Regions from separate parts of the Homo sapiens genome. Here regions 1, 3 and 4 are each linked to region 2. Evidence: fine-mapped expression QTL. A gene starts in region 2. Each other region holds a variant in brackets. All regions are shown on one strand. Distances are from middle to middle.

Evidence for each region. PIP is the estimated chance that this variant, and not a neighbour inherited with it, causes the effect.
Region 1: its variant is the best candidate, but not a certain one, in a credible set for the expression of THBS4 in subcutaneous fat (FUSION, PIP 0.54).
Region 3: its variant is the best candidate, but not a certain one, in a credible set for the expression of THBS4 in testis (GTEx, PIP 0.86).
Region 4: its variant is the best candidate, but not a certain one, in a credible set for the expression of THBS4 in visceral fat (GTEx, PIP 0.84).

The regions. Positions count from the first base shown.
Region 1 is chr5:79,977,228-79,979,913 of GRCh38, forward strand. It overlaps MTX3 (metaxin 3), which reads right to left. Exons shown (of 9, transcript NM_001363818.2): 9 at 1-2,686. Among named protein-coding and RNA genes, the nearest start is that of MTX3, 13 kb to the right of the region's middle. The variant C/G (reference allele first, on the strand shown) is at 1,196.
Region 2 is chr5:80,033,762-80,036,447 of GRCh38, forward strand. THBS4 (thrombospondin 4) reads left to right here and starts at 1,587. Exons shown (of 22, transcript NM_003248.6): 1 at 1,587-1,864. The coding sequence starts at 1,777.
Region 3 is chr5:80,102,843-80,105,528 of GRCh38, forward strand. No RefSeq gene overlaps it. Among named protein-coding and RNA genes, the nearest start is that of THBS4-AS1, 21 kb to the left of the region's middle. The variant A/G (reference allele first, on the strand shown) is at 1,582.
Region 4 is chr5:79,874,266-79,876,951 of GRCh38, forward strand. The region is part of intron 1 of LOC105379048 (a long non-coding RNA gene); the gene reads left to right. Among named protein-coding and RNA genes, the nearest start is that of LINC01455, 61 kb to the right of the region's middle. The variant G/A (reference allele first, on the strand shown) is at 1,299.

The DNA of each region.
Region 1 (2,686 bases), 57 kb before region 2:
CGACTCCTCCTAGAGAGAAGGAAGCCAGAACTTCAGAAGTAGCCAGTGGTCCAAAGAATAAATGGCCCCATGACCTTCTCTATGGTTCATGACTTACTGAGGGCTGATGCAAACTCTGGCAAGTTATTTTTCATGATTTCCAAGGATCTGGGATATGTAAACGAAATGATTAAAAGACATTTCTCTGAATTTGCAAGAAGACGACTGAAGAATCAGAACAAAGATCCAACGGCCTTTCACGTGGCTACATGTTCACCATTACACCACAACTCAAAACCCACAGGCGAGCTTTCTCTCAAATACACATTCAAAATGGTGTTCCAAATAATCCAATTGTATACATTGCAAAGACACACAAAATGCCTCCTTACACACGATTAGTAATCTGGTTTTAGACTCTGAAGTGATACCAAACATATTTAGCTAACCCTCTCAAAATTGCAGGCCTAGTGAGGTTTAAATGTTTTAGGATATAGAATCTGCTTAGAATTTAGTGAAAACTATGAACCGTAGACTGTCTTCGGTAATGAACAAAACTGGAAAATATTAAACTTCCTTTGCTTTGTCACTGAGCAACTATAAGCTTTCTATGATGTATGTATCATACTAGCTTGTATGTGACTTTAGTGTCATAAACACCCATTGCCTTTTTGGCACTTTTAAAGTACAGCCAGAAAAGGTTTGGAAAATTGTTCTGGAAATACAAGTTGGTTCCCTCTGTCTCATGGATGCTTAGGAACTGGGTAGTCTGCTGAAACCACCAGTTCAGCAGACCCTTGTACAGCTGTTCCCGGCCAACTGGGATCCTAAGGAAACAGGCTGGAAGAGCCAGGGGCCTCCCTCACAAATGCCTAAATAACCAACATATCTATGCCGACAGCCATCCCTCTCTCAATGCCATGGTCCAAGGGAGTCTTGACCTGTCTCTTCCCATTTTACTACCACTGGCTAGAGGGGCACCCAACAACAAGAAACCTTTGTAATGAGTATGAACTAGCAAAAACACTGTAGGGCAGCATTTCCTTAGGTGTATCTCTCAGAACATAAATCCCACAAGATACCTACTTTTAAAAAAATCTGGCCGGGGACAGTGGCTCATACCTATAATTCCAGCACTGTGGGAGGGTGAGGCGGGCAGAATCACCTGAGGTCAGGAGTTCAAAATCAGCCTGGTCAACATGGTGAAACCCCATCT[C/G]TACTAAAAATACAAAAATTAGCTGGGCGTGGTGGCAGGTGCCTGTAATCCCAGTAAATTGGGAGGCTGAGGCAGGAGAATCGCTTGAACCTGGGAGGCGGAGGTTGTAGTGAGCCGAGATCGTGCCACTGCACTCCAGCCTGGGTGACAAGACCAAGACTCCGTCTCAAGAAAACAAAAACAAGAAATCCATATTAAAATAAATTAGGGAAATGATGTATAAAATAGAGGTGCTTCTTGGAGATTTAAAATGCACATTAGCGTATCAAAGGTCTGAAAGGCCAACAGTAACTCAACTTTGTCTAACCCACTATTTCCCAAACTTACTTGGCCACAGAACCCTCTATTCTCCTAACAATATATTCTGACAAAACACTCCTTCAGGAACTGCTTCACCCAGAACCAAACAGGTGAGTTTTAAAAAATATTATAGCATAATTTCAAATGATTAATAAGGATACAAAGAGACTTATTTTCCTGTCTTTTGTTATTTTGTCTACTTATTTTGTTCTGAATAATCTTCTATCACATTTCCCCTTCTATTCACAAACCTTCAACTCGAGTTACCCTTTCTGATACCTTTGTTCAAGAATGTTAATTCTTATCAGAAATCCATGGCACACTAGTCTGGAAAAAAATAATTTTGTGTCTTTTTAAATTCCTAGAGTACCTCTCCACTTCAATCACAATTTAAGTCCAGGGCAGGTATCCTGGGCTCCTAGCAAACACTACACCCCAACAAGAGTTTGGGAGCCAAATTATTTTGCAAACCCTTAAGAACACAAACTAAAACTAATTTATCCTTATATCTCTGCAAAAATTAGCATTTTGAACATCCAACGAAACTTCAAGTTTGAGGATAATGGGCTTACTGACCTGACCTTTGATTTCACGTAACTAACAACAAATTTCTTTAAAATCTGGTTAAGAAATATGAAAATATTGAAAAGTAAACATAAATTCCACAAAGCTGAATGGCAGCAAAAAATATTTCTTAACATCAAGAACATATACAAAAGATGATCATTACCACCCAAATTATCTCTGTTGCTCAGGATTTCAGTTATAAAAATAGCCAAATCAAGACAAAGACAATTACAGCTTAAAACGAAAAGCTACACCTTCTTCATTAAAGGTGAGCATCTTGTCACACTGTGCATATGGAGAGAGAACAAGTACAAGGCACGGGAGAACTACCATGTCAAGGGACAGAGCTTTTTCAAAATATTTTATCCTCAGAAGTAAACCCCACTACCATAGAAAGAAAAAAATATAATTAGATATTTTAAATCACAGCATTTTTGACTTCCTAGGGAAAAGGAGTTTTTGGTTTTAGGGTTTTTTTTTTCTTTTCTGGTAAGGCAAAATAGATCTTTAGATATCATTTGTTACAAACATGAGTTTTTCTTAAGAATGAAATAAAAATTCTATTTAACTTCTATCATATATTTATTCAACTAAGTTGAATACTATGTTTAGAAAATTAAAGTT
Region 2 (2,686 bases):
ATCAGAGTAGTCTATGGTGTGATATAGCATATTGCTGCTTTTGATGTTTGGTTTCATTTGTTCCCTGTAGGCACCTAATCACTGTTTTTTAAATTCCCCAGGAGATTCTGGTATACCCAATCAGCTGAGAACCACTGAATAGTGGCTTTCAAAATTTTGAGCATCCAAATATTGTCTTCACAGAAAATCTTAATCTCTGAAGTCTACTGTAAAAACATAGAAAGGCAAGGCTGTTCTGCTTGAAGCGTAGCTTGGGAGCCTAGATTCCTCTCAAACCCAGGCCACTCCTGGGAACATGGTCTGGAGATTTGAATGTTCCCAAATCTAGTTTATCTCATTAGTCGATATTTATGCACATCCTCTGTGTCTCTCAGTGTTCTCTCATGTGTAGACATATGCCCCATTCCAAAGAGTGACTGTAGTGTAATGTGGCATTAAAGGAACCCTGGATAGACCTGTATTGGACCTTACATATTAGAGAGCTCTGCAGATAGCTCACAAATCTCCAAGTCGCTAGCTGTAAATTGAGTGATAATTGGTGTCAGGTTATTTTAGCACAGTTTGGGGATAAAATGGTGCATTAATCTCCCAGTTTGTGGCTTATTAAACTTTGAAATGGAATTATTTGAGACATAAAAGAGATAGCAATACTTTGCTGGATGTTCTCCATTAGTCGAGATTGTTACAGAGGAGAAATTTTTGCCACTGTTTATCAAATATTTTTTCCTCTAGTTAATCCATATCATTCCGGGAGCTTTGCCCAGGAAAAGGACGAATTACTTGCGTTCCTCCGATCTCTTTCAAGTTCTACTCCCGTACCTTTAAACTGTCACACGGAATCTTTGGTGACAGAGGAATAGAGGTGGGCAAGCAGGGCGTTTGGAAACCATACTGAAAACGAATTATCCATAAAGCACAGATTCACCAGCCTAGAAATGGCTCTGTCTGGATGGATTCCTTGAGATGTGTTTTATCTCCATTAAAAACACAACAACTTTCAAACTTTCACTGTGTCTCAAAATGATAGAGAAAAAAATTCAGCCTTTCAAGTATTCAAGAAAAGCTTGAAGAAATAAAAGAAACTCGCTGCTCTCTGGGCCACTTTAGGAGGCAGAGCGTTCCTGGAGAACTTCAGGATTCATTCGCAAGGGAACCCAAGGTGGGCATTCAAAGCCGATCCAAAGGATATTCTTCTTTTTAGAAAACAAAAGGAGCGCAAGGAGTAGGGGACTGAAGGTGCCCAAAGCTAGTGGGTCAGTGTCACTTTCTTCCTCCCTTTCGCCCCTTTCCTCCCGCTCCTTTCTCCCCTGTGGTCTCTGCTCAGCACCCCTTTCTCTCCAGCCCCGACTGCCCATCTTCGCCCCTACCCTCGCGCGTCGGGGCCGTGTCTACACCCACCCCAGGACCTGGTCCGTCCAGGCTCCTTCCCATCCTCACACCCGCGCCTTTCTCCCTGCGGCCCCGGCTCGCTGCTCCAGCTGCCCAGCTCTTCCCAGGACAGGGGATCCCGCCAAGGGGGCCGCCCCCGCCCCGGCCCTCCCCCGCCCGGCCGCACCATAAAGCGCCCGGCCGCTGCCGCGGAGCCCAGCAGCCAGCTCCCCAGCACCGCACGGCGGGGACGCGAGCGCGCCCCCGACGGCAGCCCGGACGCCGAGCACGGGTCACCTGCGGCGCCGGCCCGGGCGCCGACCGAGGTTCAACGCACGGCCCGGGGACCCCCAGGCGGGGCCAACGCCGCCGTCGCCCCCGGCCTCGCGGGGAGCAGGAAGAGCCAACATGCTGGCCCCGCGCGGAGCCGCCGTCCTCCTGCTGCACCTGGTCCTGCAGCGGTGGCTAGCGGCAGGCGCCCAGGCCACCCCCCAGGGTAAGTGGGTTCGGGTCGGGCCTGGGAGCGCCGGGCACCGGGTGCCCCATCTGCTGAGTGAGTGGAGGGACTTGCTCGGCCCTGTGCTCCTGTGGCCTTGCTCAGCCCCTCTCTGTCCCTCCCGGGCCCAATCAAAGCATATTGTGATTGGAGGTAGTGATTAGTCTAGAATTTTCCGAAATTCGATTATCCAATGATGAGAACAATTGCCTAAATAGTTGGGGGATGCAAAATTGTTTCAGACTATGCAAAGATGTGGGGTGGGGTTGCCTTCAAAACTTGCTACACGGTCCTAGACCTCTTAACATGTTAGGCTCTGGTGTAGGGTGAATTCCGGGTCCTGCACCCTGTGCCGGTTCCCTCCAGGCAGCCTTGCTCCCTAAATCCTTCCTCAGGCGGAGCGATGTATGCCCAGAGTCTGCTCTTGACATCCCTGAGAAAGACGCAGAATTACTCTACTTGCCCTGCCACCTGCATTTTCTGCTCTGACTTTGCTTGAACGACAAAAAGAAAGTTTATTTCAAGGATTGGCTTGATGTCTTAATTTCTGAGGTAAATAGGAAGGGCTGAGAAACTGGTCTTTTTCAATGAAATCAGTTCTTTGCAGCAAGATGGATGCAGCTGGAGGCCATTTTCCTAAGTGGATTAAGGCAGGAACAGAAAAGCAAATACCATGTTCTCACAAGCGGGAGCTAAGCAGTGGATAGATATGGACATAAAGATGGAAACAGTAGACACTGGGGACTCCAAAAGTAGGGGGGAAGGTTGGGAAAACTACCAATTGGGTACTACGTTCACTGGGTGATGTGTTCACTAGAAGCT
Region 3 (2,686 bases), 69 kb after region 2:
TCTGGTGCAAGGAGCCCAGGGGATGCCTTTAAGGAAGGTCAGCCCTGTCGGTGAGACATGTTGTGCAAAAGGCAGGTTGACTGGAGAAAAGTCATACACGTTTATTTCACATTTATACACAGGATCCTTCAGAATGAAAACCCAAAGATAACGCGGAAATTGGCCATACTGATGCTTAAGATTAACGAAGTATGAACAGCTATGTACAAATGCGACTGGACAAAAAAAGGGTATGATCTAATGCTGATAGACTGAGCTGGGAGATTCAGTGAGGCCTGTGTAGATTCTTGGCCTCTCTGCACAGCATCCCTTTCTTCTGTGTGTGGGGCAGGACCCTCTCGGGAATGGGGGAATTATGACCTACAGTCAAACAAGGTAAGTCGGATCATTTCTTTATGGCCAGTTTTTACACAGAAAGGCAGAGGGAAAATAAGAGTAATATTTTTAGGATTTATGGCTGGCTTTGGGGAAAAGAGGTTCTGGTTTCTATGGGGAAGAGGGATTCTAGTTTCTAAGGCTAGACTAGGGGAGAACGCGCCTGAGAGAAAGGAGGGCAGGTATGCAGAGAAAAACTTTTAACTTCTGAGGCTTTCATTTTAGAGTACTCTTTTCTGAGTCCCAACAGTGGGAAGCCAGAGGAAGCAGAACTGTACTTGTGAGAGCCCCCAGACAGCTGGCTCTTCCCCCACGCAGCAGCAGTCAGGCCCCAGAGCTCCTCTTGCACGACAGCACAAGGGCAAAGCCTGTCTGGGCTGGTGGAAGCTTCCGTGGGTCTGGCTGTATTGGGGGGAAGACCTGTCTGGGAGCCTCTTCAACTATTTATCTGTTCTGCCTTCCTCCCCCTTGCTCCTGTCCTTTGAACGCTAACCTGGACACAGAAGCTCTCAGCATTTAGGAGGCCTTAATTGCAGCTCCATTTAATGTAAGATCTCTTGAAGTGGGTCCCAATCTTAGGCCACAAGTTCAGGTGTACAGAAAACAAACCATTTCTCTTTGTCTTTTTTTTTTTTTGAGATGGAGTCTTGCTCTGTCACCCAGGCTGGAGTGCAGTGGCGCAATCTCCACCTCCCGGGTTCAAGCAATTCTTGTGCCTCAGCCTCCCGTGTAGCTGGGATTACAGGTGTGCACCACTACGCCTGGATAATTTTTGTATTTTTAGTGGAGACAAGGTTTCACCATGTTGCCAGGCTTGTCTCCAACTCCTGACCTCAGGTGATCCACCCGCCTCAGCCTCCCAAAGTGTTGGGATTACAGGTGTGAGCCACCACACCCAGCCAACAAACAATTTTTCTGTCACAGAGTTTAATTCTATTTGATTCCTATCCTGCCAATGTGGCAGAAACATAATCTCTGTTGATTTAAAATTTACCCACATCCTGAACCTGGGATCTTGTCAAAGTCCCACTGAGCTCTGGGAGATGGGGTCTTTATTGTCTTTTGTCACACAGGTGTCTAGAAGATGCCACCTATTGTCACTTACTTTGTGTCTTACACAACTGCAGACCACTATTCAAAGGCTATATAGTTTGCTCTCACTGCTGTAACAAATTATCACAAATATAATGGCTTAACACAACACAA[A/G]CTTATTTCTCACAGTTTCTGTAGAAGTGCAACATGGGTCTTACCAGGTGGTGGCTGTGCTGGGCTTATAGCTGGAGACTCTGGGAAAGAATCCTCTTCCAAGCTCGTTCAGGTTGCTGGCCCAGTTCAGTTCTTTGTGGGTAAACTTGCTAGGTGGCAGCTAGGGTCACCCTCAGCTCCTTAGGTTCCTTCTTTGGTCCTTGCACATCATCCAGGAGGCATCAGATCTTTCTCACGCTTGGAAGATCATGGACTCGGCCTTCTGCGGCATCTGACTCTTCCGCCTTCCTTTTCTGCTTGATTACATCGGGCCCACCTGGATGTGCTGGGTCGCCTCCCTATTTTAAGGTCAGCTTATTAGTAACCTTAATTCCACCTGCAAAGCCCCTTCCCAGCAGAACCTAAATTTGTGTTTGATTGACCAAACAGGGAGAAGGGAGAGTATCTTTAGAGTTTTGCCTACAGCAAAGGCCACTGTGTGAGCACATCCCTGAAGGTGTGCAGGGCAGCTGCCATCACTCACCTCTCAGCCCATTCACTAGACAGATGCCCTGTCAAGGTCATGGTCCTTTTAAGGCTGAAGGTTTGCTGCCCCTACTGCGGCTGTCTTGGGAAAGAACTGGTTCTGTTCTGAACCATGCTGGGATAGAACCTCTAGAAGGCAAGGTCCCGTCTACCTCAACACACACACAAGCCATTTCCTCTCTGGGGTCTCCCAGGGCTCTTTCTAGGTTGCAGGAAACAGGACGATCTGCCCCCTGTTTCCGACCTGTACCCCCACCTCTGCACTGTCATTGCTTTCCTTCTTCCCCACACCACCAAGGAAATCACCTTCTCATCAAACCTCCCATATGCCAAATATTTTGGCTAGATCTGGAGTCCTGTACACTCTGGAGTGGCTTTGGGCTTTTTGAATCCCAGGTCCAGTCCTGCTTTCCTGTCTGTCACATTCCACAGCTGAGGCAATGAGCCAGGAAGTCACCTGCTTGGAAGTTGGAGGGGGACAGGGAGTTGGAGAATGGCAAAGTGGGGTTAATACTGCAAACCTGTTTTCCTGCCACTCTCCTGACATGCTCTGTTCTTTAAAATGCCCTTGGCACCTGGT
Region 4 (2,686 bases), 160 kb before region 2:
GCAACTAGTCATTCATTTATTCAAGAAATACATACTGAGTGGCTTCTAGGGGCCAAGTACTGCCGAGTACTGTGGACTCAGCCTAGCTCTCCTGGAGTGCAGAGTGCATCGGAGGAGTCAGTTGAACAGGAACTTTTAGTGAAGTGTGCGCTCTGGGAGTAGACAGCAGGGGGGCCTGGGCAACCCCAAGGTCAGGGTTGGCTTCTCTAAGGAAGTGACATTTAAACTAAGACCTGGAAGACAGTAGAAGCTGGCCAGGCAAGGATGACATGGAGTCCTCCAGTGTGGCAGCCATGAGTATGAGCCTCGCAGACCTCCAAGATGGAGGAACTTCATTGACCAGGAGCCCAGCTGCTGCACTCTGCAATCCATCACCATGCCTGTATGGAGGCCATGCTTCCCATAGGCTACACCAAGGCAATGGCTGAGGTTGGTGGGAGTGCCAGGGCAGCCTGTTCCTTGGAAGCCAGGACAACTCTGATGGCCACCTTTGCTCAAGAACACCCCCATAACGCTGCTGAGCTTCTTTACATTGCTGGGTGGTCTACAGTGTTTCTCTCCATCCTTCCTCCCATCTCTCCTTCATGTGGAGTCAGGCTTGCACCGTGTTCCTTATCCAACCTCTCTCCTCTCCTGCCTGCCATGGGCATGTGTGACATCGCTCAGGGAGGATGAGAAGCGGGAGGTGAGCTGAGCCAAGAGGCCAGGAAAGAAAAAAGGGAAAGGGCCCTGGGTAGAGCCGGGCAAGTTCTATTGTCCCAGCAGGAGGAGGAAAAGTCAGACAGGAGGAGTCAAAAGTTGATTCCAGGGGTTGTTTGAGATTAGAATCCTGTCCCTTCTTTTTAAAATTCCAGAATGGCTCTGGCTAAAAGCTTCCTGTTTCAGGACAAAGTCCCAAAGGAACTTTTTTGTAAAGCCATCTTGTAGATCACCTATAAAAGCTTTGTCCTTCCCTAACATTTATATCCTTACAGGTATCAGAAGAAGGTGGCTCTCCAGAGTGTCACCTTGGCAGGGCCAATCCCAGTCCTGACTGGGGAGAAGCCCAGGTGCCAGGAGTGTTGTTACTGCGGCAATGGACGCTGCAGTCTGCCGGCACCCGATGCCGCTCACCAGCTCCATCCTTCTAATCAGCAGCCGAGGCTCAGATTCTTCCCAGCTGCATGGGGAGACTGTCCTGCTCGGGCTGCTGTGAGTCACTTGGCAGATCTAGTTCTCATTGCACATTAATGCATTGGGGATTTTGTTTTATTTTTTTAAAAATAAAAGAATAACATTAACATCAAGGGAGGTCATCA[G/A]AGAGAAAAAGAGTTACAAAAAGGCAGCATGCGGCCTGTGCGTGTGAGGTGGAAGGTGGAGCGGGGGTGGGTTTTGGCCTTTAGGTGGGCATGGCTGCCCCAGCCAGGGCTTCAGTGGTGCCTTTCACATCCATTCTTTATCTATAGGATGCCTGGGGATTAGGTAGGAGTGCCAAAACACTGCAATTATAAAAAGAGGGAAAAATGACCCTGTTGGTGATCATTTAAGGAAGTATTTTAGGACAACTGAAAGGAAATAGATCTTTACACAGCCTGTAGCCTGTAAGTGGAACCCATTACCCCCATTAGGTGTTCTGCATGGAAGTAAAAAATGGGTCCGAGAATAGGTCAGATAAATTCACAGATATTAGATGTCATGGTCACTAGGATCAGCCTATGAAGAGCAAGTTACCATGTTCCCATGAAAATGTTACTGCTGCCCCCAGAGGACCTGTGCTCCAGCCACATCAAGCTCCTAAATATTTCTGGAACAGTGAGTCTTCTTTCTTGAGTCTGTGTCTTTGCCATGCCGTTGCTTCTAGGTTCCCTTGCCACTTTTTCCCAAGAGTGGTAAACTACCACTTATTCTTCAAGATCCAGTTCAAAGCCTCCTCTAGAAAGCCTTTCTTGAATCCTCTAGGGCAGGGGTGGTCACTCCTCACTCTGTGCCCCCAAAGCCTGCTGTACCAAGCACACACACAAAGCTACCACTGCACTATAATTGTTTGTCTGCTCAACTGGACTATAAAATTCTCCAGGGTAGAGATTGTGCCTGATTCATGTAGCTTAGCAGAGAGGCTGGCCTGCAGCCTCTGTGCAGGAAATACATGTGAATAAAGGAATGAATGTTGAGTTACATCAACCAATGGTCTCACCACTTAAAGGACATATTCTTAATGACATTCTCAGAAGCTTTGCTTCTAATATCACTTGGACAATACTCTTCTGCCAGGACATATTCCTGTTTATCTCAGCTAATATATATGCTAGTCTCCAAAGCAGCCATCTGTGTAGTTGAAGTGAAGTAGCCAAGAGAATTGAGATTTTAGTGTCTTTAACTTAACTGTGTCTCTCAGACAAATGAGCCAGTTCCCCAGAAATCTGGTCTAGAAACATTGCCAATGCACATTCCAGTGACTTTGAGATGTTAGAAAAACAGACATATCACCTTTCAGGCTGAAATCACTGGGAAGTGCATTTTAAAGCTGGGTTTCCTTCCAGATCCTTAGGTTGTGAATGACACACAGTCTGTGGAAAATTTATGAGATCACCAAGAAGCCGAGGTCTGAAGTGTTCAAGAAGTGTTTAACCACAGATCAAACACAACATTTGCGTGTTTCTGAAAAACAACAACAACAACAAAAAACCACCAAACAGCAAACAAAGGT